Regions from separate parts of the Homo sapiens genome. Here regions 1 and 3 are each linked to region 2. Evidence: fine-mapped expression QTL. A gene starts in region 2. Each other region holds a variant in brackets. All regions are shown on one strand. Distances are from middle to middle.

The links.
Region 1: its variant is fine-mapped to the expression of RNF141 in whole blood (TOPMed, PIP 0.96).
Region 3: its variant is fine-mapped to the expression of RNF141 in NK cells (Gilchrist 2021, PIP 0.95). The same link has a PIP of 0.9 or more in monocytes.

What each region holds. Positions count from the first base shown.
Region 1 is chr11:10,614,665-10,625,186 of GRCh38, reverse strand. It overlaps IRAG1 (inositol 1,4,5-triphosphate receptor associated 1), which reads left to right. Exons shown (of 21, transcript NM_130385.4): 10 at 1,331-1,409. Among named protein-coding and RNA genes, the nearest start is that of LYVE1, 51 kb to the right of the region's middle. RefSeq lists an enhancer at 1,603-1,732 and a silencer at 7,469-7,669. The variant G/A (reference allele first, on the strand shown) is at 3,538.
Region 2 is chr11:10,536,030-10,546,551 of GRCh38, reverse strand. RNF141 (ring finger protein 141) reads left to right here and starts at 5,365. Exons shown (of 6, transcript NM_016422.4): 1 at 5,365-5,430. It overlaps IRAG1-AS1 (IRAG1 antisense RNA 1), which reads right to left and starts at 5,316. Exons shown (of 4, transcript NR_046375.1): 1 at 5,010-5,316. RefSeq lists an enhancer at 5,180-5,289.
Region 3 is chr11:10,507,689-10,518,210 of GRCh38, reverse strand. RNF141 (ring finger protein 141) reads left to right here. Exons shown (of 6, transcript NM_016422.4): 6 at 3,145-6,538. The coding sequence ends at 3,295. It overlaps MIR4485 (microRNA 4485), which reads left to right and starts at 9,885; the gene lies at 9,885-9,941. It also overlaps the pseudogene MTRNR2L8. RefSeq lists an enhancer at 6,322-7,232 and a silencer at 8,795-9,089. The variant C/AC (reference allele first, on the strand shown) is at 4,524.

The sequences.
Region 1 (10,522 bases), 79 kb before region 2:
GGCAGGGAAGAAAAGAAGGTGCCCGATAGCACTCAAGCACAATTGAGGGGATTTGTGTGCTGGCAGGGACACATTCCAATGCTGGCCACTATCCTATTCAGATACCTTCATGATGCTCTGAACTGGAGGCACAGGGGAGCTGGGGCGTGGCTGCTGATGTTAACATTTTACACACAAAACTCCTCCTAGTCAGAAAGACCCAACTAACTAGCGGATCAAACAGCACAGGGCCCAGAGGAGTTGCCACAGTCCCGGATCTCTAGCGGAAGTTGGAGCCAAGGGGCCGATAGCCAGGGATTTGCCTTCATGGGCCTCTGGTTATCAGAGCCTCCTCACTCCCTACACTCCTGCAGATTTCGCCCACCCAGAGAAGTTACAGGGAACCTGGAGGCCCCATGTCACTAACCACTACCCTGGCACCTGAGTGCCCAGCCCCTACCCGACTCCAGTGTGCTGAAGCTGATGGGCTGTGGGCCTCTGGCTTGCTAACCAAATGGGTAAAGGGTCCTTGACCATGACTTCCACTTGGATCATGAGCACCCTCTGCTGGCCCCTTCCTTTCCTCCCTTCTCGGGGGACAAACCATTCCCAAGTGCCCTCTGCCACACAGCAGACTGAAGATCCATAAGTCACAGGGGCAAGGAGCTCTGCCAGGTGCCTCCACTCAGGTCCTTGGTCTGGTGCTAATTGGCTTAGAGCAGGTGTGAGCCCACTTGGGCCACATCCCATCTCTCCCCGGGCTCTGCCAGCTGAGGCCCTAAGCCAGCAATTCTCAGGCCTCACTTTTCTGGAGAGTTTAAAAACTCAAGAGGTGCCATAAAAGGCCATTGATGACCTGAGTGTGTGGGGCAATCGCAGCTCCTGGAAGTGAGCAGTCACTGCCCGGAATGACAGGGCAGGAAGATCCAGCCAGCCATGAGATCGCCAAAGCTGTTTCCAGGAGCAGCGCCATACACACCCAGGGGACCCTCCTGTCCCAGAGCCCTTAGTTCTGCCCCTGTGTGTCCTTTGCAAACCTCAGCCACAGTGAGGCCAAGCAGTTCATTTACCCTGAAGCCCACAGACTTGTTTAAAAAGACCATGCCAAGGGTAGTCCCTGACCCATGGAAAGTGGTGCTGACAGTGGCGTTTCAGGCACCTTCACGGACTGGGAGAGGAACTATTTCCTGGTGCTTCTCAGGCCTCACCATGCCATGCCTGCCCACCCACCTCTCAGGCTGCCCCGCTTTCCCACCTAAGATAGTGGTCGCAGAACCATAGACAGAGCCAAGAGAACAGCCCAGCCCAGTGTCATCATCTGAAATTGTTATCTCTTTCTTTTACCACAAAGGAGCACATCCTGATGAGAAATCAGAACTTAGTGGGGCTCAAGCTTCCAGACCTTAGTGAAGCAGCTGAGCAGGAAAAAGGTAGGTGGGGTTGGGGCAGATGCTGTCTCAGCGAGTGCTGATTTGTCTGTGCCAGATCAAGGAAGGTGAATGTGTAAACACAAGACTTCCTGTGTCTTCCTCAGGAAACATTTGCTGGTGAATGAATGAATCCGATTGTGTCTTCTGCCCGCTCAGCACCTCCAAACCTGCCTCCTTCCAACCAGCCCCCAGGCCTCGCTGTCAGCCCTCCCTAAGCCATGCTGGCATCTAGTGGGCCTGGAAGGGTGCCTCAGGCCTGAACTTTTGACACTTCCTTTTCCTCGTACACCCAGGAAGCTGCCCAAACTGAAGAGTTCCTCTTTTCAAGGCATCACGGCCATCTCTTGCTTACTAATCTGCTGTCACCACAAAGTCCATACCCCAGCCCTGCCCTGCTGGGTAGCTGCAGGCCCCTTCCTCCAAGCCTCTGGTTCCCTGTCCACCTTCTGCCAGAACCATGGCGGGGAAAATGGTTCTGAAAATGAGGCTTCAGCCCCCGCACTGCCTCCCTCTCTGCACTCACCTCTGCCGATGTTCTCAGTAGGGTTCTGACCCCTCTAGATCTAGCTGGGCAAGTCCAGCCCTGCTCCCAGTGCCCCCAACACCCTTCCTCGGCCCCATTCTCCTGCATGAGTATGTCGAGCCCCACCACGAGTTGGAACTGTAAGCCCTGCTACCACTCAGGTGACCTGGGCAAGCTATTCAACCTCCCTGGGCATGTAAAACCAGGCTAAGAACAGTACCTGCCTTCTTAGGTGATTATGGAGATTAAAGCAGCTAATATCTATAAAGTACCTAAAACAATACCTGGTACATGACAGGTGTTATCTAGGTGTCAGCTATTATCCCTAGAGAAGAAGCCCCCAAGGGCAGGAGTGTGTGTGTGTGTGTGTGTGTGTGTCCACTGCTTACAACAATGCCTGGCACTACTAGGGCCTGCATAGGTATTTGTTGAATGAACGAATGAAATTGTATGAGATGTGGCAGGGGGCTAGGTGAACCTGTAATCCCAGCACTTTGGGAGGGAGGTGGCTTGCTTGAGCTGAGGACTTTGAGACCAGTCTGGGCAGCATGACGAAGCCCCATCTCTACAAAAAATACAAAAATTACCTGGGCATGGTGACACACACCTGTAGTCCCAGCTACCCGGGAGGCTGAGGTGGGAGGATCGCTTGAGCCTGGGAGGTCAAGGCTGCAGTGAACTGTGATCGTGCCACTGTACTCTAGGGTCTCGCTCTGGGGTACAGAGTGAGATCCTGTCTCAAAAGAAACATTTTTAAAAAGATGTGGCAGGAGCATTGAGATAGGTACATGAAAATAATTTGTAACTGTAACCATAGTGCCATGAGGTGGGCAAAGAGGCATGGGTGAGTGGAGAGAGATGAGTGTTTCCAACAGGCCAGGCTCCTGGCTCTTCCCTCTTCCCAGAGCCTCTTCTCTGTGGCCACTCACCCTCTAGCCTCTGTGCCTCTGTCCCCGCGGCATCTCCCTCCTGCTGGGCTATCTCCCTCCTCTCTGAGTCATATGGTACCTGTTCCTTAAAGCAGTGGGTTAGTCCCACCAGCTCTGCAATCTTCTACTTTCTTGACTTTCTTTTGTATTTTACTCTATATAGTACTCCCTTTTTCAGAGGGGGTGGGGGACTATTTTTTATTGTAAATATATATAACATTCAACTTGCCATTTTAGCCATTTTTAAGTATACAGTTCAGTGGCAGTAAGTACATTCATATTATGAAGCCATCACCACTATCCATTTCTAGAACGTTTTCATCATTGCAAACTGAAATGCCATACTCATTAAAACAATAACTCTTTATTCCCTCCCTCCCCAGCCCCTGGTGATCACCTTCTACTTTCTGTCTCTATGTATTTGACTCTTCTAGATCCCTCCTAGAAATGGAATCATACAGTATCTGTCCTTTTGTGTCGAGCTCATTTCAATTAGTAAAACATCTTCAAGGTTCATCCGTGTCACCTAGTCCTTTTAATTCAATCTTAATTAATAAACTTCCCATAGCATTTTCCACAGTATAAACCATTTTGTTACCTCTGATTTTATGTAATCTTCCCAGTCAGCTAAGAGGGGCAGGGATTCTTGCTCTTATAGTTGAGGAAACTGAGGCCC[G/A]AGGATCTCCTGACTCCAAATCTCATGGTTTGGCCATCTCATGAACAGTTTTAAAACTTTTTTTAAGCTGCACAACATTTCAGACAAGCTGATCTGTAGGAGGCCAGCGTGTTGGGGAGATGCAAATGGGGCTGCTCTGGTTGAAGGGGATAGAAGGGCTTGGATCCTTCATCTTCTGAGACTGTGGGCCCAAGGTACCTCCAGGGACCCAGGCTTCACAGAGCACCATTTGAAAATCCTTGCCCCGCTTCAAGCTGCTGGGGGCCAGTCTCAGCATAAGAGCCCTATGGATTCTTGGGTGAATGTGTCCAGGATGTCACTAACAATGGTGGAAGCCCCTGGTCTGAACTGTAGTAACTTACACCTACCTATTTATTCAGCATTAATAAGAAGGTTCCCAGAAGTAAAATTTCAAACAGTGTTTTTTCCCAAGGGCAAAATATTTTAAATAACCATCTTTAAAGAGATCTTTTGAAAATGCAGCATATACTTCTCTAATTATAATTTTAAATTTACTAAAGCATATTTAAAACACTGGAAAAAACACTTTAAAATTTCACCCACAACCCCATCAATTCTGAAAAACTAACAATTTTTCTTCTTTGCAATATTTGCCCATATTTATAATGTTTTCAGTTGATTTGATGAATAGATACAGCTTCTTTTTTTTACTTGTTATTTTATACTCAGCAATTTCTCCTCAGTTATGATTTAATGGGTGCATAGTTCCTCTTGTATTGACCTATCTATTGTTCTTTGAACTAGGATTAACAATGCTAGTATAAACAATTATGGACCGTTAGTTGTTCTTTTTTCTTCCTTTAAATCATTCCCTTGAGATAAGTGTTCAGACTTGAGAATCACAAGGTTAAAGAGTAGAAACATTTGCATTTCCCAAATTACTTACAATGAATAACGCTACTGACAAAGACTGAATGGACATCTTTCTCTTACGCATTACCCGTGCTGGTGTTTGCTTCTGCTCCTTATTATTCAGAATATAGTAAGAATAATCAATAATTGTCATTGTTTTAAGTTTATTATTATTAGTGTGAAATTTCATTATTATTTCAATTAATTTGCTAGGAAGCTCAAACTTAAAATGTTAAAATAGTCACTTTGTTTTCTTACTGGGTGACTTAACTTCTTACATCTTTGCCCGTGTACCCATTTAGGTCTGGGGTTTTTCGTTGATTTGTTTGGTTTTTGTTGGTAATATATGTAAACTTGATACATTATAGATATTAGCCCTTAATTGGCTTTCTTTCTTTTGGGGGGGGCTGTATTTTAATATATTTTCATTCAATCTTTTTTTTGCTTTTTAATACGTTTTGTGTTATTTTAGAGGAATTGTAAAGATTTTACATAATCATGTTTGCCTATCTTTCCCTTTGAGAAGTCTTCTATTATTTCAATCATTATAAAAATACTACTTCTCCCCAGTTGTAATAATATTTCCACTTTTTTTCTCTATTAAAAACACTGTTATAATGAATACTATCTTACATAGATCTTTATAGAAATCTGTTTTTTCCATGGGCTACTATTCTAGACTTGCAATTGATTGGTTAAAAGTATTTACTTTTAAATGTATATGTGCACACTGCCAGATTAGCTTACAAAATTATACCAATTTAGACATCCACTACCTACAGCAAAACTTTATTATCCAATATTAATAGGGCATAAGATGGATCTTAGAAGTAAAATTATCAGGCAAATGAATGTGACTCCTATAAGCACCAAATTTTAAAAATAAAATTAACCATGGTCAGTGTCCAACAATATACACTCCCTCTCATTTTCTCTCAGTTCTAGGGTCTGGATGCTTAAGAGCTCAGACTTCATCACTTACCAGCTGCATAGCCTTGGTCAAGGTTCTAATTCTCTCCACGCTTCAGTTTGTTCATCTTTTAAAGGAGGTTAATAACAGTACCTACTTCACTAAGCTGCTGTAATGTTTGCATGTGATACTGGTCTTTATTCCAGCAGGAACCTGGCATACATTTTCATTTCTGTCATTTAGGTTGTAGAACTCTATCTTGCCAACCAAATGGGATATTCTTGTACACTGTGCTCCACAGTGCTAGAGATGTGGTGGGCAACCCTCCGTGTTTAATGAATACTTGCAGACTTGTGACTTTCTTTTCTTATATTCTGAAAGCCCCATCAAAGAGCCCCGTCCCCTCCCATACCCAGGATAAAAGGCTTTGGGAGCATTTTATGAGAGCTGGCTCAGATTGTATTTATAGGCACTAAATACAGCCCTGCATATGAACTCATGGGGAAAAATCCAGTCTCTTATGATGGTTGTTGGCTGTTCCTTTGAGAAATGGGAAAAGATACTTATCAGAACATTCTGGAGTCTGAAGAATTTTGGCTCTCCTTCAGTTTGTGAGGACTGGGAGGCTCATTTCTGTGCTGCATCTAGTCTTTCCAACAACCCAATCAGTTCCCTTCTCAGGAACTATATTGTATGCTGTTTTGATCTTTGATCAGTTGCAGGTTATTTCAAGCCAAATATGTGAGACTGACTGTGGGCCAGTTCTTAGGCTGTGTGCTGGGGATGCATTAAGTGAAAAGGGTTCAGGCCCCACCATCAGGGAGAAGGCCTTGTCCCAGCTACCATTATCAGTCCCCTTGGCTAACTCAACAGCCTGCAACCTGGTCCCCTCTCCCTGCACTCCCAACCCCCAACCCAGCTCACACCATGGCCAACACAGCAGCCGCAGGGATCTCTAGAAGGCAAATCTGTTTCAGCATCTTCAGAGGCTTCATTCTGCTCTTAGGAAGAGCACTTGAATCCTCAGTAGAACCTACAAGGCCCTGAATAGTTAACCCCACCCACTTCCCCAGCATATTCTAGGGCCACACTCACTCTCACTCACAATATTTTGGCCTGCCTTCGGCAGCTCATTCTTTCCTCTTCTTACGCATGGCACATTCTGTCTTCTGCATGGAATGTTCTTCCTCTCTCCCTCTTTGCCTAATGAACTCCCAACTCAATCTTTAGATATCTGCTCATGTCACTTTTCTTGGGAAGGGTTTGCTGGTACCTTCGGATCCCTTCTCCTTTGTAAAATCTCTCAGTGTGAAATTGTTTGGATGTTTCTCTGATTAATCTCTGTTCCCCTGAATAATGAGCTCCAGAGGATGTGGCATGTCAGTTTTGCTTAGCATTGTATCCTTAGCTCCCAGCTCATTGCCAGGGACATAGTAAACACTCAATAAACATTAAACAAATGTATGAACGAATAAGCTCACTGTCTAGGAGAGGAAACATAAGAATAGACAAAGTCACTACGATAAATTGTGATAAAACTTTAACAGGCCATAAAGTACCTGGGAACAAAGAGGAAGAAGCAGCTAGCTCAGTGGGGTTGAGTCAGGGAAGGTTTTCAGGAGGAGCCACCTTGAGCTGGGGAAGAGAAAGTCATCCCAAGCAGGGGGACAGCAGAAGCAAAAGCATGTAGGCATCTTCTAGTGCTTGGCATACTTCAGGAACAGAAGGAATGTCATGTGAACTAAGTGTGAGCTACACGTCCCAGAGAGATGGGCAACAAGGTGGGAACAGTGGGCTGAGACCAAGGAAATTGAAGGCTTTGAAGGCCAATTAATGAGTTTGAATTTCATTTAGGACACTTTGGAAAGAGAAGCCTGCAGGTAAGGAAGCATCAGGATCAAATCTATATTTTAGAATAATTCTTCTGGACAGATTGTGAGAGCTGGCCTGAAACAGCAGAGGCTAGAGACAGGGAGACACCAGGTAAAAGGATAGGGAAATAGCCTGGTGAGAGGTAATGAGGTGGTAGTAAATGTGGACAGGATAGTTTGACAGCTATTGGAGATCAGCTTGTCAGGACTTGATGAGGAGATGGAGTTGAGAGGCAGACCAGGAATACCACCAGGCACCTGTCTGCATGGTTGTGAGGGTGATGAATTGTGAGACAGGAGGAGGAGTTTGCTTGAGAAGGAAGACAGTGAATTTGAGTTTGGACATGTCAAATGCCCACGGAAAGCAGCTTGAATGCAACAGACAAACCTGGTTTTGCATTCTGGCTGTACTGCTGATAAGCTGGACCCTAGTAAATCACTTTAACTCAGCTGAGCTTCAGTTTCTCCAGAAAATGCATTTCATAATACATTCTTTGTACTTTCAGAAACCAATTTCTCTTCTTTGGAGGAAGCAATTACCAAAATTCAGCAGGTCCTACAGTTTCACTTCACTTCAAGTTCAATTAAACTCTAATACTTTTAATTTCAAAAAAGTATATCTAGTATAATCTCCCTCTTTTTCCCTTGCTCCTTCTGTATTTGTGGGGAAGGAGGTGTTTAAGCTATTTTTTATTTGCAGTACTATTGTAAGAAATGACAAAGTGTATCTACTGCATAGTTGATGTTCAGTAAATGGTGGCTCTTGAAATGATTTTTATTCTCCTTAACCAGGTGGCAACGTCTAGAAGGTAGTTGGCTATCTGGACCTGGATTTTGAGGGACACGTAGGCTGAGGCAGAGAAGTACATCGAATGGACAGTCCTTCCAAAACCCCCAGTCTAGACTCAGAGCCTCAGGTCTTGGGCAGGAAAGAGGCCTCCCTGAGAAGAAAGAGGTAAAAAAAAGTTTATCCCCAACTAGCAGCTTTGACTTTTAGGAACCATCCTGGGACTCAGAGCATCTTTCAGAGCTCCAAAAGTAATTTTTCCAAGTCCCTGACATGGTCAGAAACAAATATTTTCATTGGAATGAGCTAGTCCTGGGAGATATATTTGAAAATAAATTTATTACTTTTTGTTGAAAGTGGCTTATGTTCATATCTAAAAATTCAACCAATAGTGAAAAATACAAGGAAGAAAGTAAAAATAGCTTACACTAAACACCTCCTTCCCCACTAATACAGAAGGAGGAAGGGAAAAAGAGGGAGATTATACTAGATATACTTGTTTGAAATTAAAACTATTAGAATTTAATTGAACTTGAAGTGAAACTATAAGACTTGCTGAATTTTGGTAACTGCTTCCTCCAAAGAAGAGAAATTGGTTTCTAAAAGTATAAAAAATGTATTATGAAATGCATAAAGGGTTTGGAGTTACTGAGGTAGTTTTTTGTTTTTTGTTTTTTGTTTTTTGTTTTTGCTTTGGTATGAGTTTTAATTCAATTTTTATAAATAATCATGTCCATAGTACAAAATTCAAAAAGTACAAAATGAGACATAGGAAAAAGTAAGTCTCATTACATCTCTGTCCCCCAGTAGCAGAGGCAACCACTGTCACTATGTTTTAGTGTAACTTCTAGATATATTCCAAGCATTTCTAAATATAGACATATATGTAAAAGTGGATTTTTCTTTTTTTTTTTTTTTGAGATGGAGTCTCACTGTCACCCAGGCTGGAGTGCAGTGGTGCCATCTCAGCTCACTGCAAGCTCCACCTCCCGGATTCACGCCGCTCTCCTTCCTCGGCCGGGACTACAGGCGCTCGCCACCACGCCGGGCTAATTTTTTGTATTTTTAGTAGAGCTAGGGTTTCACCACGTTAGCCAGGATGGTCTCGATGTCCTGACCTCGTGATCCGCCCGCCTCGGCCTCCCAAAGGGCTGAGATTACAGGCGAGAGCCACCGCGCCCAGCCAAAAGTGGATTTTTTAAACATAAATCGTAGTATATTATACAAGGTGTTCCAAACCTTGCTTTTTTCACTTAGTAATATACTTTTTTTTATTATTATACTTTAAGTTCTAAGGTACATGTGCACAACGTGCAAGTTTGTTACATATGTATACATGTGCCATGTTGGTGTGCTGCACCCATTAACTCGTCATTTACATTAGGTATATCTGCTAATGCTATCCCTCCCCCATCCCCCGGACCCCACCACAGGCCCCGGTGTGTGATGTTCCCCTTCCTGTGTCCAAGTGTTCTCATTGTTCAATTCCCGCCTATGAGTGAGAACATGCGGTGTTTGGTTTTTTGTCCCTGCGATAGTTTGCTGAGAATGATGGTTTCCAGCTTCATCCATGTCCCTACAAAGGACATGAACTCATCCTTTTTTATGGGTGCATAGTATTCCATGGTGTATATGTGCCACATTTTCTTAATCCAGTCTATCATTGATGGACATTTGGGTTGGTTCCAAGTCTTTGCTATTGTGAATAGTGCTGCAATAAACATACGTGTGCATGTGTCTTTATAACAGCATGATTTATAATCCTTTGGGTATATATCCAGTAATGGGATGGCTGGGTCAAATGGTATTTCTACTTCTAGATCCTTGAGGAATCGCCACACTGTCTTCCACAATGGTTGAACCAGTTCATAGTCCCACCAACAGTGTAAAAGTGTTCCTATTTCTCCATATCCTCTCCAGCACCTGTTGTTTCCTGACTTTTTAATGATCGCCATTCTAACTGGGGTGAGATGGTATCTCATTGTGGTTTTGATTTGCATTTCTCTGATGGCCAGTGATAATGAGCATTTTTCCATGTGTCTGTTGGCTGCATAAATGTCTTCTTTTGAGAAGTGTCTGTTCATATCCTTTGCCCACTTTTTGATGGGGTTGTTTTTTTCCTGTAAATTTGTTTGAGTTCTTTGTAGATTCTGGATATTAGCCCTTTGTCAGATGAGTAGATTGCAAAAATTTTCTCCTGTTCTGTAGGTTGCCTGTTCACTCTGATGGTAGTTTCTTTTGCTGTGCAGAAGCTCTTTAATTAGATCCCATTTGTCAATTTTGGCTTTTGTTGCCATTGCTTTTGGTGTTTTAGACATGAAGTCCTTGCCCATGCCTATGTCCTGAATGGTATTGCCTAGGTTTTCTTCTAGGGTTTTTAGGTTTTAGGTCTAACATTGAAGTCCTTAATTGATCTTGAATTAATTTTTGTATAAGGTGTAAGGAAGGAATCCAGTTTCAGCTTTCTACATATGGCTAGCCAGTTTTCCCAGCACCATTTATTAAATAGGACTCCTTTCCCCATTTCTTGTTTTTGTCAGGTTT
Region 2 (10,522 bases):
CATGATTAAAATGTACGAGTTGAGAAGTTTCAACATATGCATCTGTGAAACCATCATTTAAAATCAAGAAGATGAACATATCCATCACTCCAAAAAGTTTCCTCCCACTCCTTTGTGGTACTACCCTCCCACCCATCTCCACAACACTGCTCCCGCATTCCCAGGCAACCACTGATCTGCATTTTGTCACTATACATTAGTTTGGATTGCCTAGAATTGTATATGAATGGCGTCACACCACAGGTACTCTTTTATTGCGGGGGAGGATCTGGCTTCTTTCACTCAAAATAGTTATTTTGAGACTCATCCATGTTGTTGAGGTATACCAATCAACCATTCCTTCTTATTGCTTAGTAATATTCCATTTTGTGGATATGCCACAATTTATTTTCCATTCACCTACTCATGGACATTTGGTTGTTTCCAGTTTGGGCCTATTACAGTTAAAGCTATGTATATTCATGTATAAGCCTCTGTGTAGGCATATGCCTTCATTGCTCTTGGGTAAATACCTAGGAGTAAAATGGTTAGATCATGTGGTAGGTGTATATTTAGCTTTTTAAGAAATAGCCAAACTCTTTTCCAAATTGTTGTATTATTTTACATTTCCAACATGCAGTATACAAGAATTTCTGTTGTTCCACATCCTTGTCAACATGTGATATGATCTGTCTTTCAAATTTTAGCCATTCTAGTAGCTACAGTGCACAGTGAAACCTTATTATTTTCCTGATTTGCATTTCCCTAATGATTAATGGTATTAATTCATGCACTTATTTTGTCATTTATAAATCTTTGGTGAAATGTCTGTTCAAATATTTTGCCCATTTTAAAAAGTTGGGTTGTCTTCTTATTGGGTTGTAAGAGTTATTTATGTATTCTAGTTAGAAGTCTTTTGCCAAATATATGTTTCGCAAATACTTTCTCCAAGTTTGTGGCTTACCTTTTTATTTTCTTAACAGAGTCTTTTAAAAAGCAGAAGTATTTAATTTTGATGAAGTACAATTCATCCTTTTTTTTTTTTTTCATTTATAGTTTGTGCTTTTTGTGCCATCTTTAAGAAGTCTTTGAGAAATCCAAGGTCACTAAGATATCTTCTAGAAGTTTTGTGATTTTAGCTCTTACATTTAGATGTATGATCCATTTTTAGTTAATTTTTACATATAGTATTGATGGCAGTGGCAGCCCGTCTGGAGCAGCTGCTGCAAAGATGCAAGCTGCAGTGAGGGAGGCCTGGCCAGGGCTGCACACTCCACAGAACCATGAAAACAGGAACAGGCTGGAGCCCCACCTGCTTCTGAGTTGGTGGGGTGGGAGCCCCACCCTCCTGGGCACAGCTGCAGCTGCCCAACCACAGCTGTGGACCTGGGCATCCTTGTGCTCTCAGGGGCCCAGGAAGCCCCTTGCCCCCACAGGCTTGAAAGTGCCTGCTCCTGCTGTCTGGCCTCTCCCTGCTTCTGGGGCAGAGCAAAGTTGTGGCCAAGCCCAGACGCTGTCACAATCTGGCAGGTGTGTGCATGCTTGGGGCAACACTGACATGCCAGCCCCCTGCCACCTCAGCCCCCTCTGGACTTTGGACACTGATGAGCATGGGAGGGGAAGCTGAGGGGGCGCTGAGGGCAGCTCAGTGTGGGCCTGCAGGCTCCCGCTGGCACAAACAGCCTTGGTGCCATGGACAGTGGCATGAGGCAGACTGGCTCCTGGGCAAAAAGGGGTGGGTCCTCAGTGAAACCCTACCTTTAGGCAACTGAGAGTCTGAAGCCTGGGGGCTGGGCTGCCAGGTCCTCAGACTGGAGTGAGAACTTATGGCACTTTTTCTACTGCCCATGGACCAATCAGCATGCACTTCCTCCCTCTTGAGCCCATAAATATCCTAGGCTCAGCCAGACTCAAGAAACATGGGGACAACCTGCCTGCGTGTAGGAGCTACCCACTCCAGATCTCCTCTCTGCTGAGGGCTCAGCAGACATCCTGACGACCTGCCTGCAGAAAGGAGCCACCCACTGTGGGTCTCCTCTCAGCTGAGAGCTGGGCAGACAACCGGACAACCTGCCTGCAGAAAGGAGCTACCCACTTAGAGTCTCCTGAGAGCTATACTGTCACTCAATAAAGCACCTCTTCACCCTACTCACCCTCCAATTGTCTGCATACCTCATTATTCCTGGATGTGGGACAACAACTTGGGACCTGCCAAATGGCAGGACTGAAAGAACTGTAACACAAACAGGGCTGAAACACCCCCTCACTCCCCATGTTGCAAGCGATGAGAAGGACAGAAGAGAGAAGGAGAGAAGAGCTTTGACACTTCGAGAAGCCCAGACCTAAGAGCTCCCTGAGCCAGGACTGTAACACCCTCTTGGGGGCTCTGCATTTCCTGGCATCTCAAAGCTTCCAGGTGCCACCACATTCCCTAGTGCCAGCAGTGGAAGCCGCTTGTGGTACTCCTGGTCCAGCCACAGCTTTGCAGGAGCCAGCGCCCATGCCAGCACCTGGAGCCACCCGCCCCGCCACAGCTGGCGTGCCTAGCTGTGCACAGCGGCCAGACCTCGCGCTCACTTGCTCACGCACCCCTCACCACTTTGCGCCTGGCTCGTCCTTGGCAGGCATGGGATCTGGGCCAGTGGCATGAGCCGAGTGCAGCCTGCAAGGCCAAATGGGCAGAATGAGCCCAGTGGGCCTGAGCAAAACTCGGGCAAAGGAGCCACCGGCCACAGAGGTTTCTGGCTGGCAGAGCAACACTCCAAGGATCCTGTGACAGTATGAGGAAAGGAGCAAGATATTAAGAGTTTTTTGGCATATGCTATTCAATTTTTTCAGGTTTATTTGTTGAAAAGATTATCTTTTCCCCCACTGAATTGCCTTGGCATATTTGTCGAAAATCAATTGATGACATATGTATAGATACATCTCTGGGTTCTATATACTGTTCCATTACTCTATCTATTTTCATACCTATACTATACTGTGTTGAGTAGCTCTTATTATAATGTCTTGAGATCAGGTAGTGTAAGTCCCAAAACTTTGTTTTTTTTGATGAAAGTCTTGACTATCCTAGGTCCTTTGCATCTCCATATAAATTTTAGAATTAGTTTGGTCATTTCCATCAAAAAGAAATCTGCTAGAATTTTTATTGGAATTTCCTTAAATCTGTAGGTCAATTTAGGCAGAAGTGATATCTTAAAAATGCTCAGTCTTCTGATTCATGAACATAATGTATCTCTATTTATTTAGGTCTTCTTTAATTTCTCTTAACAATGTTTTTTATTTTATTTTAGATTCAGGGGGTACACGTGTAGTTTTGTTACATGGGTATATCGAACAATGCTGAGGTTTAGGCTTCTAATGATCCAGGTCACCCAAGTGGTGAACATAGTACCCAATAGTAGTTTTTTCTACCCTTTTGGAATCCCCAGTGTTTATTGTTCCCAACTTTGTGTCTGTGTACTCAACGTTTAGCTCCTACTTATAAGTGAGAACATGCGGTATTTGGTTTCCTGTTTCTGCATTATTTTGCTTAGGACAATGGCCTCCAGCTGTATTCATGTTGCTGCAAAAGATATGATCTAGTCCTTTTTGTGGTTGTATAGTATTCCATGGCGTATATGTACCACACTTTCTTTATCCAATCCACTATTGATAAGCACCTGGGTTGATTCCATGTCTTTGCTATTCCATAATATTTTATAGTTTTCAGTATACATGTCTTTCTCATCTTTGGTCAAATTTGTCCCAAATTTGCTGCTTTTTTTTTTTTTTTTTTTTTTGCTGATAAGAGATATTTAAAAATTTTCCATTTCTAATTGTTCATTGCTAGTATATAGAAATACAACTGATTTTTGTATATTTGATTTTGTATCTTGCAACTTTTGTAAACTCACTTATGAGTTCTAGCAGCTTTTTTGTAGTATTCCACAATTTTCTTATGCAAATAAATGCAGTGCTACAACTTCCTTTCCAACTTGGATGCCTTTTATATATTTGTCTTTTTTTATTTCATTGACCAGAACTTCCAATACAATGTTTAATTGAAGGCAATTTTTACAGAGTAATATTTCTAACTCCCAGGCCCGGATTAGGCTGAACTATGGAATCTTGTTGAATTTGATATCTTTTGGAATTTATTAAATCATTATTTATACTTCATTTTTAAGCTTTTTCCTTTTCCAGTGTTCAAATATTCATCAAATGTTCAAATATTGAACAAGTACCATGCTGGCTGTCAGGGAAATAATGGTGCACAAACAGGCATGGACCTAGCGCTAATGAAGTCTTACCGTACTACCGAGGCAGTTTAAAACAGGAATTAAAAACACAGGTTCAGGGTTCTGTCTGCTTGGGTTTGAATCTGGCTCTGCTCCTTAATGGTTGTTTGACCTTGGAAAAGTTAATCGACTTTTCTAAGCCTGTGTCTTAGTGAAGGTATTAATAATACCTACTCACAGGATTGCTGTGAAGATTAAACGAATTAATACCTTTAAAGTCCTTAAAATACGGTTTGACATATAGTAAATGGTCAAAGAGTATTATTATTAGAGGGAAGAATTAGCTCTTCACAAGGTGAATCTACAAGTGACTGGTGAAGGAGGGGTGTACAAACAAGAAACATAAAAACCAGTTTAACTGCTAAGCATAGAGGCAGCAGTGTCAGCTGTACCTGGGTTAAAATCCTTGCTCTGCTGTTTATTGTCTAGGCAACTTTGACCAGACGACTTAAACAAGAGCAATGCCCGTAAAGTGCCTAGTGCAGTATTTGGCACACAACAGATGCTTAAAAGACAGCAATTACTGATTCAGACGTCCCGCAGAGCAGTAATATCACTAACATGTGCTCATCATCATATCTATCATTTATCAAAGCTCAGGATTTTGAACCTTGTAATTACTTTTCATACATTCTCTTATGCTTAACAACTCGGCTAGGTGAACACAATCCATTGCCTCATAAAGAAACAAGATGACCTTTGTGTATCTATCATCAGTGGGGAGGCTGGAGGTCTGGGAAGTGGTACCTTGGAGCCCAACTGTTGACCAAACCAGGGCTCTCAGTGCGGCCTTGGTCGCCAGCGGGGCGCTCCACTTTCCGCTCCGGAGATGGCACCAGGAGAGATGGGAGTCTGCCAGGCTGTTTCCATGGCCACCTCATGAAGCCCCTGCTCCGGGAGCGTGACAGGCGAGACTCTCCTTCGCCGCCACCTCTCGTCTCAGATGACCATCTGGGCTCGAAAGCCCTCAGGAGCTGCGGAGCGCGGGTCGGTAGGGGCGCTGCAGAGGAAGGTTGGGCGCCGTCTCCCGGCAACGCGCGGGGGGCGGGGCTTTGCGTCACAGAGGTGCGACCGGGTCCCGGCCTGAGTCGCGGCCACCCGCAGGTCTGAGCTGTGGGCTGAGGCAGCGCAGCCGCTGCCGCAGGGTGCGCGATGCCTTGAACCTGGGGTGAGCTCCGCGGCGCTGTCCTTTCGTGTTTCCCTTGCTAGCTGCTCCAGGACTCTGGGTCTGGGAAGAGAAACCCCAGAGGGCCCTCCGCTGCCGAGCCAGGCTTCCGCGGGGAGACAGGCCTAGCCCCGCCGCCCTCCCCGGGCCTCGGATTGGGGCGTGGGGACGGCTGGGGAGGCCATTCTATTGACGCCCGTCTTCTGCCCGGCGGGTTCCAGTTGCCCGGGGTGGCGGTGGCTTGTCCCGCCTCGGGGTGGTTCTGAGGGACCCGGAGAGAGTTTTTCCTTCTCTATCCCAAAACGGTTGTTTGAATATTGCCGCCGGCTCAGTCATTCGGCCGCCGGACTTAGCTGTTGGTTAAATGTCCAGGTGCGCTTGAGGAGGGGCTGAGGCGGCGTAGCCAGAGCGAGCGCTAGGGTGGCCCGCGGGCTCGGTCTCCGCCGGGCTGGACACCCAAATAAGAAACCTTTTGCCTGGGACGATAGCTCAGAAATAGCCACGTCGATCTACTTAGCCAGCCCCACACTTATGAATTGGCTTAGGCTGCTACCCTTCCCAAAGGTCTTTCCTTGTCAAACTAGCTGCTACCTTGAGACCCGGCTAAGAAAAGAACGTTTTCTTGCTAATAATAAGAAGGTAGTGATTACACAGCAGGAGCAGAAGGCTTCTGTGTTAGCTTTTGAAATTATTCCTTCAGTTATTTGTCTCGGCGTTACAAAATGTGGATTTACGATTGTTATTGAAATCGATCCCTATGCCCCTTATTAAAGGTAGTGTACCTTTTATATTCTGACACTGTCCTATTTAGCGGTGCCAGCTAATTCAGTTCTTGCCTCTGGCATATATATAAAGCTGCTGGAACACTTTCAATTGTTTATAATTCTTACATCTTCAGCACGAATTTATTCGTTTTCACTCCCTTCTGCCCATTCTTCTTGCTATAAAATGACCTCTACCCATTCAGAATTTTGTCTGGGGGCATGAGCTGCCACCGGCCGACGATCCTAAATTAGTCACCTCCATGTCGAAGTCACCCGTCTGAGAAGTGATGCTTTCTGAATTCAGAGCTCAAAAATAGTATGGATTTTTATCCTTTTCTTTCACATTGCCTGACTTCAGTTTCTAGAACTTTTTCTCAAGAATATGACTATATGTTTCAAAAATTAATATTTGTCATTTGGTGTAAATGAACTTTATATTCGATGTGTGTAGCCTGATCCTTCTTGGTTCCCATCTAAATACAAACACGCTTTCCTTCCCAAAAAGGCAAGGGAGGTCCAGAGAGAATTCTTACAAGTCTAATATGCTTTTTCCAATATGAAATGCATTTAGTAAACACACTGTTACTGTGAGAAATCCATATTCTTAATCTCCTAGTACGGCACTCTATCCTTTTGTAGTTTCTCTCTCCTTCTCTCTCTAATATATATGTATGTATCTTTTTCTGATCAAGATCTTTGATTCTGGAACAGGCATTCTGGACTCTATAGTGACTCTGGCCTAATTATTTCACTATGTATCTATATTAACTTGTCTTGAAAAAAAAAAGTTGATATCTGTTTACAGATCTACAGTTTGAGTAAACAATGAGTAATAAAGTAAATAATATCCTTAGGGACCCAGTCAGTAGTACTTGGTATTTATTACTGATGTTAAAGTTGACTTGACAGTGAAAATCATTGATGTTTATTTCAATTAAATCCTTTTAGGTGAGGTTGATACAAAATTTGATGGAGAACTGGTTTCAGAGAGGTTTTTAAAATACTACAGTGCAGTACTTGTCATTTAGTCATTTTGGTGCATTTTCAGCCTTTTCCATTTTGCTTTAGTTATTTTATGAATGAATTATGGTTTAAATTTTTAGGAGTTTTTGAGCAGTTTTTTCGTTTTTGCTTTGCCAGTTACCCATGATGTAATTTTAATATTTTTATAAGGAATATTTGAACTTCCACAATTCATTTGTTAGAAAAATAAGTGATTCACTATGTACCACCCACTAGAGAATGTGGCATTTTTGGAATCCTTGATCTTGTGCATTTCAAAATAACAGTTCTTTATTTAGAAAATCCTTCAAATGCTTTTTGAAAGCATATTTTTATCTTGCAAAAAATGACTGTGTTATAGGTGGCACAATAATATGAGAGCTGCTAGTTCTTTGAGAAATCTTGACCAGAAATTCATCTTTTGTTGAATTCTGTGCCAGTGGTTTGCAAATTATGTTTCTATGCAATACCACTGTTGCATGGCCTAGGGGGGAGTATCTTGTTAAAATCAAATAGTAAATGTTTCCCAGTTTACATAAGCATTAATTTAATGACAGATTTTCACAGTTTTACATTTTCTTTCATACATATTTTTAACTTCTGCTTCTCTCCAACCTAGTACTAATAGATGACTGACCAAATTAACAAAAGTCAAAAGAATACTAAGTGAATAATAATAAAACAAAAACTGCCAATGGTATTTACTGCATTTATTCAGTAAACATCTATTGAGTGCTTGTGTATCTGCCAGAAGACAGACCATAGCTGCTGTCCTCAAGAAGCTCACTAGAGGGAAATGGCCAAGTGACTTAACGAATGTCATAGTATGATAGAAATATGTGCAGTCACCAAAGAGGGACACTGAAAAGCTGTGGTGGTTGACTAGAGGATGGCCTCAACAGATTGTTTTCGTGAACATGCACTCTGTGTTGTGGTTTTATATTGTATGCAGATCACAGAGTCATATCTTATTTTCACACCCATATAGTGATAGATGTTAATATTTATCAATATTTTATGGTTTTCAAAATAAACTAAATGTCAAGCCCTCTTTCTGGAACCAGGTTGAAAACCACTTCTGCAGGCTCTCTCAGGTAGTCTCTAGATACTGTTGCATTTTAATGCAAGGAGTTAGTGATGAAGTTTCCCAGATACCAAGTACAGTTACAAGATAACAAGTTAATATGCTGCCTCAAATTATAAACTTTACTCAAAGTTAGGGCAGCAGATGAAAACAATGCTGAAACAAAGGGGATCATTTTCTATTAATAACTCAATAAATAAGCAACTAACTCTTCTTTTGAAATATGGTTTTGGTGGGTAATGTAGGGTAGCAAAATACGCCACTTTGGCATAAGGATTATTTTGAGTTAAAAGCACATTGAAAAGCAGCAGATGTAAGAAGTGCCCACTGACCCTCCTAATTCTTCCTGAAGGCTGGAGATAAAACAGCCATGTGAAAGATGTCCTCTCTATGCCAGGAGGAAGACATTATCATTACTAGAAGTGGGCAATCAAAGCTGAGAGAAATGTGTTCAAAGAAGCCTTCTTAAAGTAACCCTTATCTTCCTAGTCACTTTTCTGTGATTAACTGGCCCAGCCCAAACCCTTGTGTCTTGTCATGTTTTCACAGTTTACTTCTCCTTTGTCCAATCTACTATGTAAGCTTTTGGCCTTAATTACTTTTTTTAGTCCTTATTTTTCTTGAGGGCTCCTGTGTATGTATAAAAATTACTAAATAAAATTTGTGTGTTTTTCTCCTGTTAATCTGTCTTAGGTTAGTTTAATTCTTGGGCCCAGCTGGAGACCTCAGAGAGCAGAGGGAGAGAAATTCTATCTCCCCTATACCACGTTGGTTAAATTATCATAGGTATTTATATTAAATATTGAGACTATATATTTCAAAAGTTCAGTTTTTTTCTTTGTTAAGTAATGTAGATATTATTCAAAGTTTTCAGCCTGGTTGACTAGAATCTTAATTACATTTTCATTAAATTGGTACAGGAATGTTAGAGGAAGGTTCAGTTTCATTTTGGGAATAAAATGTTAGGTTAAAGGTCACCTACTCCACTTCCCACCCAGGTAAAAATCCCTGTAACACTTATTAGATGTACTTCTAATCTTTACCTAAACACTTCCATACTTCCAATGAGAGGGAGCTCACATGTAGCAGCCATTTCCACTTCTGGATGGTGCGACATGCTTATCATCAACTGAAATCTGCCTTTCTAATTTATACTTACTATACTTAGTGGCCATCCCATTCTCTGTAAATGAATCTTGTTTTTCCACATGACAGCTCCTCAGATATTTAAACAAACTTATATTGCTTCATTGTTACCAAACTATGACTATCTAGAATAAACCTCTTTTTTTTTCTATGCCCATGAATATGTTCTAATTTATTAGTATCCTTTAAAGCCAACTGCTTAGAGCTGAATACAGACTTTTCAGTGTGGCCTAACCATTGCAAAGCATAATGGACTAGTAGGCTGCTTGCTCAAGATACCTGCTTCTAGCAAGAGTTTAGGATTATTTTAGCATACTTGTTGCCCCCGTTATACTGTTGACTTATTTTGATTAAAAACCCCAGACTTGGCCGGGTGCGGCAGCTCATGCCTGTAATCCTCGGCCTGGGAGGCCGAGGCGGGAGGATTGCTTGAGCCCAGGAGTTTGTTACCAGACTGGGCAACAAACTCTGTTTGTTTAAAGAGACTCCATCTCTTTAAAAAACACAAAAACAAAAACCCAGACCTTCTGTATTTTAACTGCTTTTGAGCACATCTTACATATGTGTTTTTGTGCAGTTGGCTCTTCAGGATATAACTTTTAGTCATATTAAATAGCATGTAAGTGTCTGTTTTAGTCTTGATCCTATTATTCACTAGATAATATTCATTTATTCCAGTTTTGGTCATCCGCAGATTGGGCAGGCATACAGTCTTCAGGTCATCAACAAAAATGTTAAACAGCCCAACTCTTGGTGCCAGTTTCCCTCTCCCTTTGCCTCTCTGCTTTAGTCCTTGTGGCCTTTTTAAAAATTACCTCAAAGTCACCGTGCTGCTTCCTGTCTCAGGCACTTTTCATAACCTCTGCCTGGAGTGTCCTCCTTTTGCCATTTCCCTACTTTTTTTTTAATCCCTAACTCTGACCATTCTGACCTCAAGTAAAATGTTGTTTGCCCAGGGACTTCTTCCCTGATACAAAACTAGGTCAAGTCCCCCTTTTATAGGCTTTCACAGCACCTGTACTTGTTCACCTAGCACTTCTCATTTTGTAATTATACATTTATTTGTGTGGTTACTGTCTCTTCTCCACTGTATTGGATG
Region 3 (10,522 bases), 28 kb after region 2:
TGTGTGTTTAACTTTTTAAAAAGCTGCCAGCTATTTTCCAAAGCAGTCTTGTGCCATTTTACACCCCCACTAGCAGCATATGAGATTGCATTGAATAAATATATCAATTTAGGGAGAGTGAATTTCTTACTAGTGCATCTTCCTATCCACATACGCTGTATATTTCTCCACTTATTTAGGTCTTCTTTAATTTCTGTCACCAATTTTTTTAGTTTTCAGTGTTGCATATCTTTGACATCTATCCCCAAGTATTTCATAGTTTTATGCTATTTTAAATGGTATTTAAAATTTCAATTTATGATTGATACTAGTATATGGAAATACAATAGATATTTGTATATCAACCTTGTATCCTGCGCCCTTATTAAACTCATGTATCAGTTCTGGTAGTATTTTTGTAGATTCCATAGGCTCTTCTTGAATGTCCGAATATCATTTTTCAAAGACTTTTTTTCTGATTCAGAATTCTAGACTTGAGAGTATTTTTTCTTTCAGTATGTTAATAATGTTGCTTCACACTCATCTTGTTTGCATTGTTTCTAATGAGAACTCTGTCATCCTTTTTTCCTCTGTAGGTAATGTGCCATTTTTTCCCTCTGTTTTTAAGGTTGTTTTCTTTTCACTGGTTTTGAGCACTTTGATTATGATGTGCCTTAGAGTAGTTTTTTCATGTTTCTTGTGCTTGGGGTTTATTGAGCTTCTTGGATTTGTTGATTTACGGTGTCATCAAATTTGGAAATTTTTCAGCCATTATTTTTTCAGATTTTTTTCTATCTTCTCTCCCCTCTCCTGTGATTCCAATTACCATGTATTAGCCCACTTGAAGTTGTCTCACAGCTCACTGGTGCTATTTTTTTCTTTCTTTTTTGAGTCTTTCTCTGGGTTTCATCCTGGATAGTTACTATTGCTATCTCTTTTCATATTCACCATTTTTCTTCAATGTCTAACTTGCCATTAATTCTATCCAGTGTATTTTTTTAACCTCAGATAATTTTCATTTCTAGAAGTTTGATTTGGGTTTTTATTATCTTTCATGTCTCTTCTTACTATCTTTGAGCTTTCCTCTAGTTTTTTAACTATATAGAATATAGCTATAATAACTTTCCATTTTATCTGCTAATTCTAATATCTGTGTTAGTTCTGGGTGGTTATGATTGATTTTTCTCTTTATTATAGATTATATTTTTCTGCTGCTTTTTTGTATGTCTGGTAGTTCTCAACTGGATGCCAGACTTTGTGGCAGACTTTGTGAATTTTACCTTTTTGGGTATTGGATATTTTTGTATTCCTATGAATATTCTTGAGCTTTTTTTCTGGACTATAGTTAAGTGACTTGGAAACAGTTTGATTCTTTTGGATCTTGCTTTTGTGATTTGTTAGGCAGGACCAGAGCAGTATTTAGTTTAGAACTAATTATGTCCCACTAATAGCAAGACCCTTTAGAGAACTCTACTGATACCCCAAGAGTTATGAGGTTTTCCAGTCTGGCTGGTGAAACAGGCAGTATCCCAGGCCCAGTGAGCTTTAGGGGACTATCCCCTCAAAGCCCTTTGATTGATTGTTCAGCCTCGGTAGTGTCTTCACATGCACACACTGATCAGCACTCTGCTGAGTATTCTGGCGGGGACACTTCCGTAGACCTCTGGAATTTTCCCTCTGTGCAGCTTTCCATTACCCTGCCCTGTAAACCCTAGCTGTTTGGCCCCCCAAGATTCTCAGCTCTGTGTGTTCAGCTCAGGGAGTTTGCCATGTTCCATCAAGCTTCCCGCTTCTTGATCAGGGGCTAGAAACTCTCGAGGCTGTAAGCTGAGGCAAGTATAGGTCTCACCTTCTTTGACTCCCATGTCCCAGGGATCACTGTCCTTTGTTGTCTGATGGCCAGTGCTTTATTTGAAAGATTGTATGAAACCATTGTTTTAGTAATTTTAGGTGGGAAGATAAATCTAGCCTCTGTTGGTTGGAAACAGAAGTTGACTATTTTTAAATTGTGATGTTTTGTGCACAGAAGAGCATACATATAATTATCTTGTAAAATACCTCTGAAGAACTAGAAATCAACCTAAATAATATATGCCAGCTGTAGCTTTCACATTTAGTTTTTGGAACAGAGTTCTAAATTTTTGCATAAAAGCCAAAGAGCAGTTGATACAAATAATTACTTTGGTCCCAGATTTCACTGAGAGATGAAAAGAAAAACATTTTTCTCTGCATAATATGTCTCTGGCTCAAATACGGTATTTTTTAAATTACCAAAATAATGTTTGACCAGAAAAAAATCCTTTTCGAAAACATAATCTTATTTAAGTGATCATATATGAGTTCTTCCCCTGCCAGAAAAATTACTGTGCATGTAAAGTTTATCTTTTAACTTTGTATGCTCCATTTTTATATAAGTCTTCCTGTTGCTTATGAGCCATAGGAATTTTTTCAGACCTTTAAGCAAGCAACAGGTAGATATATTGTTGAAAGTCATGTAGATATTTCTTAGAAAAATAATTAATAATATCCTTTCTTCTTGTCATATTCCCCTGCCACTGCCAAGAAGTTATTCCTAGAGTAATGGCTTCCATTTAAATAATCACGAATAAGCATTTATACTTGACACTTTGACCAAATCTTCCATTGATGCGAGGGAATTTCCTCTTGGGACTCAGAAGGAATTTTTATTATAAAGGAATACTTTACCTGTTTAGGTATGGGGATGCGAATTGCTGCATTGTTGGTAGCAACAAAAGATGGGAAAAAAAACTAAATGTCCTTCTGCAGGAGACTAGTTAAACAAATTATGGCATAGCGATACAGTGTATGTTAAAAAGAATAAACAGCTCTAACAGGTGCTGATACATACTAGTCTGTAAGATATATTGACAAGTGGAGAAATGTGTGTGTGCACGTGCGTGCATGTGTGTACACATAAGCTTAATCCAGCTTAGTCTATCTCTGGAGGAATATATAAGAAACTGGTAACTGTGGTTGCCCCTGGGAAAGAGAATTGAAGATTGAGATAGGAGGGAGGGATTTATTTTTCACTATATATTTCTATGCTATTTCCTTTTTAAAAGCCATGTGCATGTATTACTTTAAATAAAATCCTGTTTTTAAAAAAGAAGAAAGCAAACTGTTTTGTTTTGACTTCTCTAATAGGAGTGATCGACACAGGAATTGCCCTATTTGTCGCCTACAGATGACTGGAGCAAATGAATCTTGGGTGGTATCAGATGCACCCACTGAAGATGATATGGCTAACTATATTCTTAACATGGCTGATGAGGCAGGCCAGCCCCACAGGCCATGACCTTGAAGTGAAAGTCTTCTGTTGCTATTGTGGGCTCAAATATTTGGTCATGGGGGAAGAATGTAGGGTTGTGGCACTGGCACAGACACAGGAAAATCCATTTTCCCCACTCTTTTATTTTTGCTATTCTGATCATTTGTCCCCCTTTTAAAAATAAACTTCCCATGTCTTCCATTTGTGGTACTAAAATTTGCTACTGTTTTAGACCATATTTTCCTATTATTTATCTGTTCAAATTTGTATTATTACAACTAATAGCTCTTGAATTCTTTGCTAAAGGTAACAGCAACACTTCCAGAGGCTTCTAAAACACTACTGTTTTGCAGGGCAGGAGTATTCTGGAATCTTTTTACTTAGATATAAAATAAACCTCGAATATTAAAAAGTTGTAGCCATCTGAGAGAGGAAAGTTTAAGTGACTGAAAATGTAGAATACTTCAACGTGCATGTTACTACTTAAAACTAGTCTTTCTGCTGGAATCTAAGGAGTATATATATATATGCCCCCTTGTGGTTAATTATTGCTCCTTTAATAATTTTTACTTGAAATGATCCACAATTATTTCATAACTTTAGCAGTGTGTTTTGGAACTACTGTACTTAAAGGTTTGTTTGTTTGTTTTTGCCATACTGTATAATTTGGGTGAGGTCTACAAAATTGGGTGTGACTTTCCTTTGCAAATGGATTTCTCCTGGGGAATTTTCTTGGCTGTTCTGGAAATGCTTTCCCACAGCTGGGTAACTGTTCTAAATGGCTTTGATAATGCTCACACATCTTGGAGTTTCAGAAGGAAATTATTCTGCATCACAAATACTAAATTTTATATTTCTAAATTACTATAGGTCATTTAATATTGGTTTATGGTGCTTTTATTTCCTTAACTTGAAAACATCTTTCTGAGATTTCAGAGTCCTCAAATTTCTTAGATTAAGAGACAAGAGGCCAGTGCAGTGGTTCACACCTGTAATCCCAGCACTTTGGGAGGCCGAGGTGGGTGGATCATTTGAGGTTAGGAGTTTGAGACCAGCCTGGCCAACATGGCGAAATCCTCTCTCTACTAAAATACAAAAATTAGCTGGGCATGGTGGCAGGTGCCTGTAATCTCAGCTACTCGGGAGGCTGAGGCAGAATTGCTTGAACCCAGGAGGTGGAGGTTGCAGTGAGCCGAGATCACACCACTGCACTCCAGCCTGGGAGACAGAACGAGACTCCTAATCAAAAAAAAAA[C/AC]ACAAGAAAATAGAGTGAGGCTTTTTTACCGTATATACATAAAATACTTATGAAAATTAGAAGATAATTTGGCATTCCTACTGTTTCACTGTACTTCCATTGAAATACTCTTTCCATTAAAATATTCTGAAACAATATAGTAATAATGGAATTGTGATCTTCAGTTGCACCTCAACCATTTTTTTTGCTTATGAACTAAAATTTCTAACATTAACATTTCGGCATGTAATAAAACAAGGGCCTATCTCCTTTAAAATTTAACATTCCATGTAACTTTTCTGACTTATCATTCATAAGTTGCAAATATTACTATTTTCCTAAACCAGGGTACACAATTTAAGTTGCCACTTATTGATGACAGAATTTCTGGATAGTAGGATTTTAATAGGCGAGCAAATAAAATTCAAATCAATTTCAAGGAAAAACATCTGGCCAGGGGTAGCTTGATTTCGCCCCCAAAAATACTGAAGACTAATCCATTGACATTCATAATGGGACAGCTAAGTACCAAATAGCTAACTACTCCCTATGGAGGTTTATGCAAGCAGAGTACCAGGGGTTCCATCATATCAACCTGGCAATGCACTTGGTGGTTGTGTGACCTTGAGAAAGTCTCTTACTCTTGTTTATGTGTTCTTACTTTAGAAACTGAGACTTTATTTGTGGTTTTCACACTATTTCAGCAGCAAAAACTTTTTCAAGGAAAATCTTACAGAACCTTTAAACACGTGTGCATACACACATACCCTATACCCCACTATATAAAAGTCATATTATTATAAATTTCCTTATTATATAAACTTTATATACTATAAATGTGATTAAGTCAATGAATAAAAACATTAATGCATTGGTGATATCCAGCATGTTTGAATTTGGTGAGTAACACACATATAGTGGGAGTCGTTTTTTTTAAAAAAATTTTTTAATTAAATTCAAGTCAAATTTGCAGAACCCTGTATCTCCTCCATAGATTCTTAGTATTCCATGGAACATATTTTGAAAACCTTGGGATAGATGATCCACTGAAATCTTTTCCAGCTCTAAGATTTTAAATTGTCCTTTTAGATTAGACTTGCTGAGTTTAATTCAGATTACCTAATTTTAAAATGTTTCTGAAAAGTGAACAGAGTTACCTTACAGAGTTTTGGATCTTTCCAGGGATAGCCAATGATTTTATCCCCCAGAATCCTTCACCTTTCAAGGAGTTATTTAACAATGAGCCCAGTGACTCAATAGGGCCCAAACCTTTTTATTTTACAATATGAGCTCCAAGACACTTACTGATCTACTGTGAATATAAAATGTTATTAGCCTTATCAAATAAATAAATGAGCACAGCTCTTTGTTCGCTCTATTGAACTGGGTGATAATTATTTAGATGTGAATGTTAGGTCAGTTCTACTGTAATAACTAATCGTAAAAGTTGTAAATTTGTTTAATGGATGAAATGTACACTTTTTGTATTCTGTACAGCTTTGTCTTTTTTAAATATGAAGTACTTAAATGTACTTACTATGATAGGAAATATAATGTGTGCCTTCTAGGATTTGTGAAGTGGTTTCATGAACTCTAAGGAATTTGTTTTCCCTATCCTAACTCAGTAACAGAGGGTTTACTCCGATTATGTATAGAACCTTAGTTTGAGAAAATGAATTTTACTATGTACTGAATTTAGAGGTTGAGAATAATAGGATCTGTGTTATTCTTAGTACCCACTGATAAATTGTGCAATAAATAATCTTTCGCAAGTGATTTTAGCTAATTGAAGAGATTATTTTCCTATGTAATTTCACATTCTAATATACTAAATGTTTATATTCCTTAGAGAACTATTTTATATTGTGCGCTGGGGGCTTGTGATGTTTGTGTGCTGTTTTAAAATTCATTTCAAATTGGACTCGATTTCCTTATATCTAATATATATCTGGGAGAAAAGGCTGCTTGAAAATATCTTTTGATTCAGTGATTTTTAACATTGGGAAGTTGAGTTTATTAAAAGGTAGTCTGAAGAATTTGCATTTTTAACTGCTATTGTCTGAAGTCAAGCTTAGTCTATCCGGGAATAAGAAAACTACTTGCAGATGAGGGAAGTTAACAGGTCACTCACATTCATGCTGGGCCACACAATGACGATACAATACAAACCTAAGCAGCTGACAACAGACTCATTTGTTCGTATGTCTATTCACCCTGCTGTAGCAGTCCTCAACCTTTTTGGCACCAGGGACTGCATTCATGGAAGACCATTTTTCCACAGACCAGGGTTGGGGTGGGAATAGTTTCGGGATGAAATTTTTCCACCTCAGATCATCAGGCATTAGTTAGATTCTCATAAGGTGCATGCAACCTAGATCCCTCGTATGCGCAGTTCACAGTAGAGTTCATGCTCCTTGAGAATCTAATACCGCTGCTGATCTGACAGGAGGTGGAGCTCAGGCAATAATACTCACTCGCCCGCGGCTCAACTCCTGCTGTGCGGCCTGGTTCCTAACAGGCAGCAGACCAGTACTGTCCACAGCCCAGGGGTTGTGGACCCCTACCCCAACAGACAGCAAAAATAAAATGCTCAACCCTATTGTAGTTTGTTTACCTTGTAAAATCATTTCCAAAATATAAGAATGTAATTAGAGAAACATCGTAGAATCTTAGTGCTGAAAAGTGCAAGGACATAAGAATGAGTGGCAGTTGGTAGTTAAATTGACTGTATCATCATACTGTGGAGAAATGCACATTTTACTGTCAAAATACATAAAAGCCTTTGCAGAGATAGGTTTTGACACGCTTGCAGCTGTTTATAGTCTTACTCTCTGTCATCTTCTATCTTACTAATTGCAAAAATTTCCAAGGAACTGTTTATCTGGTTAGTATTCCCCTAGTTACACTTGTTCTTTATAATGATCATAGTTCAGGCAGAGTATTTGGGTATATCACCTTCAGTCATGTCTCAAACGCAGGAAATGAAGAATATTGTTTCACCAACACTCAGAAGTAAAGAGAAAGCAAGAGAAAAGTGCTTTCGGCTCTTGTTTAATCCAAGAGGCCGTGAAAAATCACAACCCAGGAGCTGTGATTTGTTTTCACGAGGCAAAGAGCAATGATGTCGATCGGTTTCAGCGGTACAATTTGAAGTAACACATAAAGTGAACTTGAGCCCTTAAGGATAAAGAAGGGATAACTGCCTCAAAAACTGTTGCTTTAGAAACCTAAGCCAGTATACAATTAATTGCCTCTTATTCCAGTTGCAAACACAAAGGAAAGTAGGGATTTGTCCCCCAAAAGGCCAATTAAGTATAGCAATGTAATAAAAGCACAAAGTGCTATAGAAAAGATGTCAGAAAAGCTTGCAGGACACCGCTGCTAGCCCCATACCCCGAGCCAACCAAACCCCAAAGACACCCCATACAGTTTATGTAGCTTACTTCCCCAAAGCAATACACTGAAAATGTTTCGACGGGCTCATATCACCCCATAAACAAATAGGTTTGGTCCTAGCCTTTCTATTAGCTCTTAGTAGGATTACACATGCAAGCATCCCCGCCCCAGTGAGTCACCCTCTAAATCACCACGATCAAAAGGAACAGGTATCAAGCACGCAGCAACGCAGCTCAAAACGCTTAGCCTAGCCACACCTCCACGGGAGACAGCAGTGATAAACCTTTAGCAATAAACCAAAGTTTAACTAAGCCATACTAACCCCAGGGTTGGTCAATTTCGTGCCAGCCACCGCGGTCACACGATTAACCCAAGTCAATAGAAACCGGCATAAAGAGTGTTTTAGATCAATTCCCCTCAATAAAGCTAAAATTCATGTGAGTTGTAAAAAACTCCAGTTGATACAAAATAAACTACGAAAGTGGCTTTAATGCATCTGAACACAGAATAACTAAGACCCAAACTGGGATTAGATACCCCACTATGCTTAGCCCTAAACTTCAACAGTTAAATTAACAAAACTGCTCGCCAGAACACTACGAGCCACAGCTTAAAACTCAAAGGACCTGGCGGTGCTTCATATCCCTCTAGAGGAGCCTGTTCTGTAATCGATAAACCCCGATCAACCTCACCACCTCTTGCTCAGCCTATATACCGCCACCTTCAGCAAACCCTGACGAAGGCCGCAAAGTAAGCGCAAGTACCCACGTAAAGACGTTAGGTCAAGGTGTAGCCCATGAGGTGGCAAGAAATGGGCTACATTTTCTACTTCAGAAAACTACGATAACCCTGATGAAATTTAAGGGTCGAAGGTGGATTTAGCAGTAAACTAAGAGTAGAGTGCTTAGTTGAACAGGGCCCTGAAGCGCGTACACACCGCCCGTCACCCTCCTCAAGTATACTTCAAAGGACACTTAACTAAAACCCCTACGCATTTATATAGAGGAGATAAGTCGTAACATGGTAAGTGTACTGGAAAGTGCACTTGGACGAACCAGAGTGTAGCTTAACACAAAGCACCCAACTTACACTTAGGAGATTTCAACTCAACTTGACCGCTCTGAGCCAAACCTAGCCCCAAACCCATTCCACCTTACTACCGAACAGCTTTAACCAAATCATTTACCCAAATAAAGTATAGGCGATAGAAATTGTAAATCGGCGCAATAGATATAGTACCGCAAGGGAAAGATGAAAAATTGCAACCAAGCATAATACAGCAAGGACTAATCCCTGTACCTTCTGCATAATGAATTAACTAGAAATAACTTTGCAAAGAGAACCAAAGCTAAGACCCCCGAAACCAGACGAGCTACCTAAGAACAGCTAAAAGAGCACACCCGTCTATGTAGCAAAATAGTGGGAAGATTCGTAGGTAGAGGCGACAAACCTACCGAGTCTGGTGATAGCTGGTTGTCCAAGACAGAATCTTAGTTCAACTTTAAATTTACCCACAGAACCCTCCAAATCCCCCTGTAAATTTAACTGTTAGTCCAAAGAGGAACAGCTCTTTGGACACTAGGAAAAAACCTTGTAAAGAGAGTAAAAAATTTAATACCCACAGTAGGCCTAAAAGCAGCCACCAATTAAGAAAGCGTTCAAGCTCGACACCTGTCATCTAAAAAATCCCAAACACATAACTGAACTCCTTGCACCCAATTGGACCAATCTATTACCCTATAGAAGAGCTAATGTTAGTATAAGTAACATGAAAACATTCTCCTCCGCATAAGCCTACATCAGACCAAAATATTAAACTGACAATTAACAGCCCAATATCTATAACCAACCAACAAGCCATTATTACCCCCACTGTTAACCCAACACAGGCATGCCCACAAGGAAAGGTTAAAAAAAGTAAAAGGAACTCGGCAAATCTTACCCCGCCTGTTTACCAAAAACATCACCTCTAGCATTCTCAGTATTAGAGGCACCGCCTGCCCAGTGACATGCGTTTAACGGCCGCGGTACCCTAACTGTGCAAAGGTAGCATAATCACTTGTTCCTTAAATAGGGACTTGTATGAATGGCTCCACGAGGGTTCAGCTGTCTCTTACTTTCAACCAGTGAAATTGACCTGCCCGTGAAGAGGCGGGCATAGTATAACAAGACGAGAAGACCCTATGGAGCTTTAATTCATTAACGCAAACAACACTTAACAAGTCCACAGGCCCTAAACTATCAAACCTGCGTGAAAAATTTCGGTTGGGGCGACCTCGGAGCACAATCCGACCTCCGAGCAACACATGCCGAGACTTCACCAGTCAAAGCGAATTACCACGTTTAATTGATCCAATAACTTGACCAACGGAACAAGTTACCCTAGGGATAACAGCGCAATCCTATTCTAGAGTCCATATCAACAAGGTGTTAGCTGGACAGACTAAAATAATACCCCGGGAAAAGGAAAGGAACATGTATAGCTTTGCTCATGAACTATAACAGGGTAGAAGTTAGAGAAAATAACAAAGGAAGATTTATCTTCTGGGTCTGGTGAGCTTCAGTTTGAAAATTTTGAGTTTTCCTAGTGAATGTCATTCATGTCGGAGTCTTAGTAAAAGATA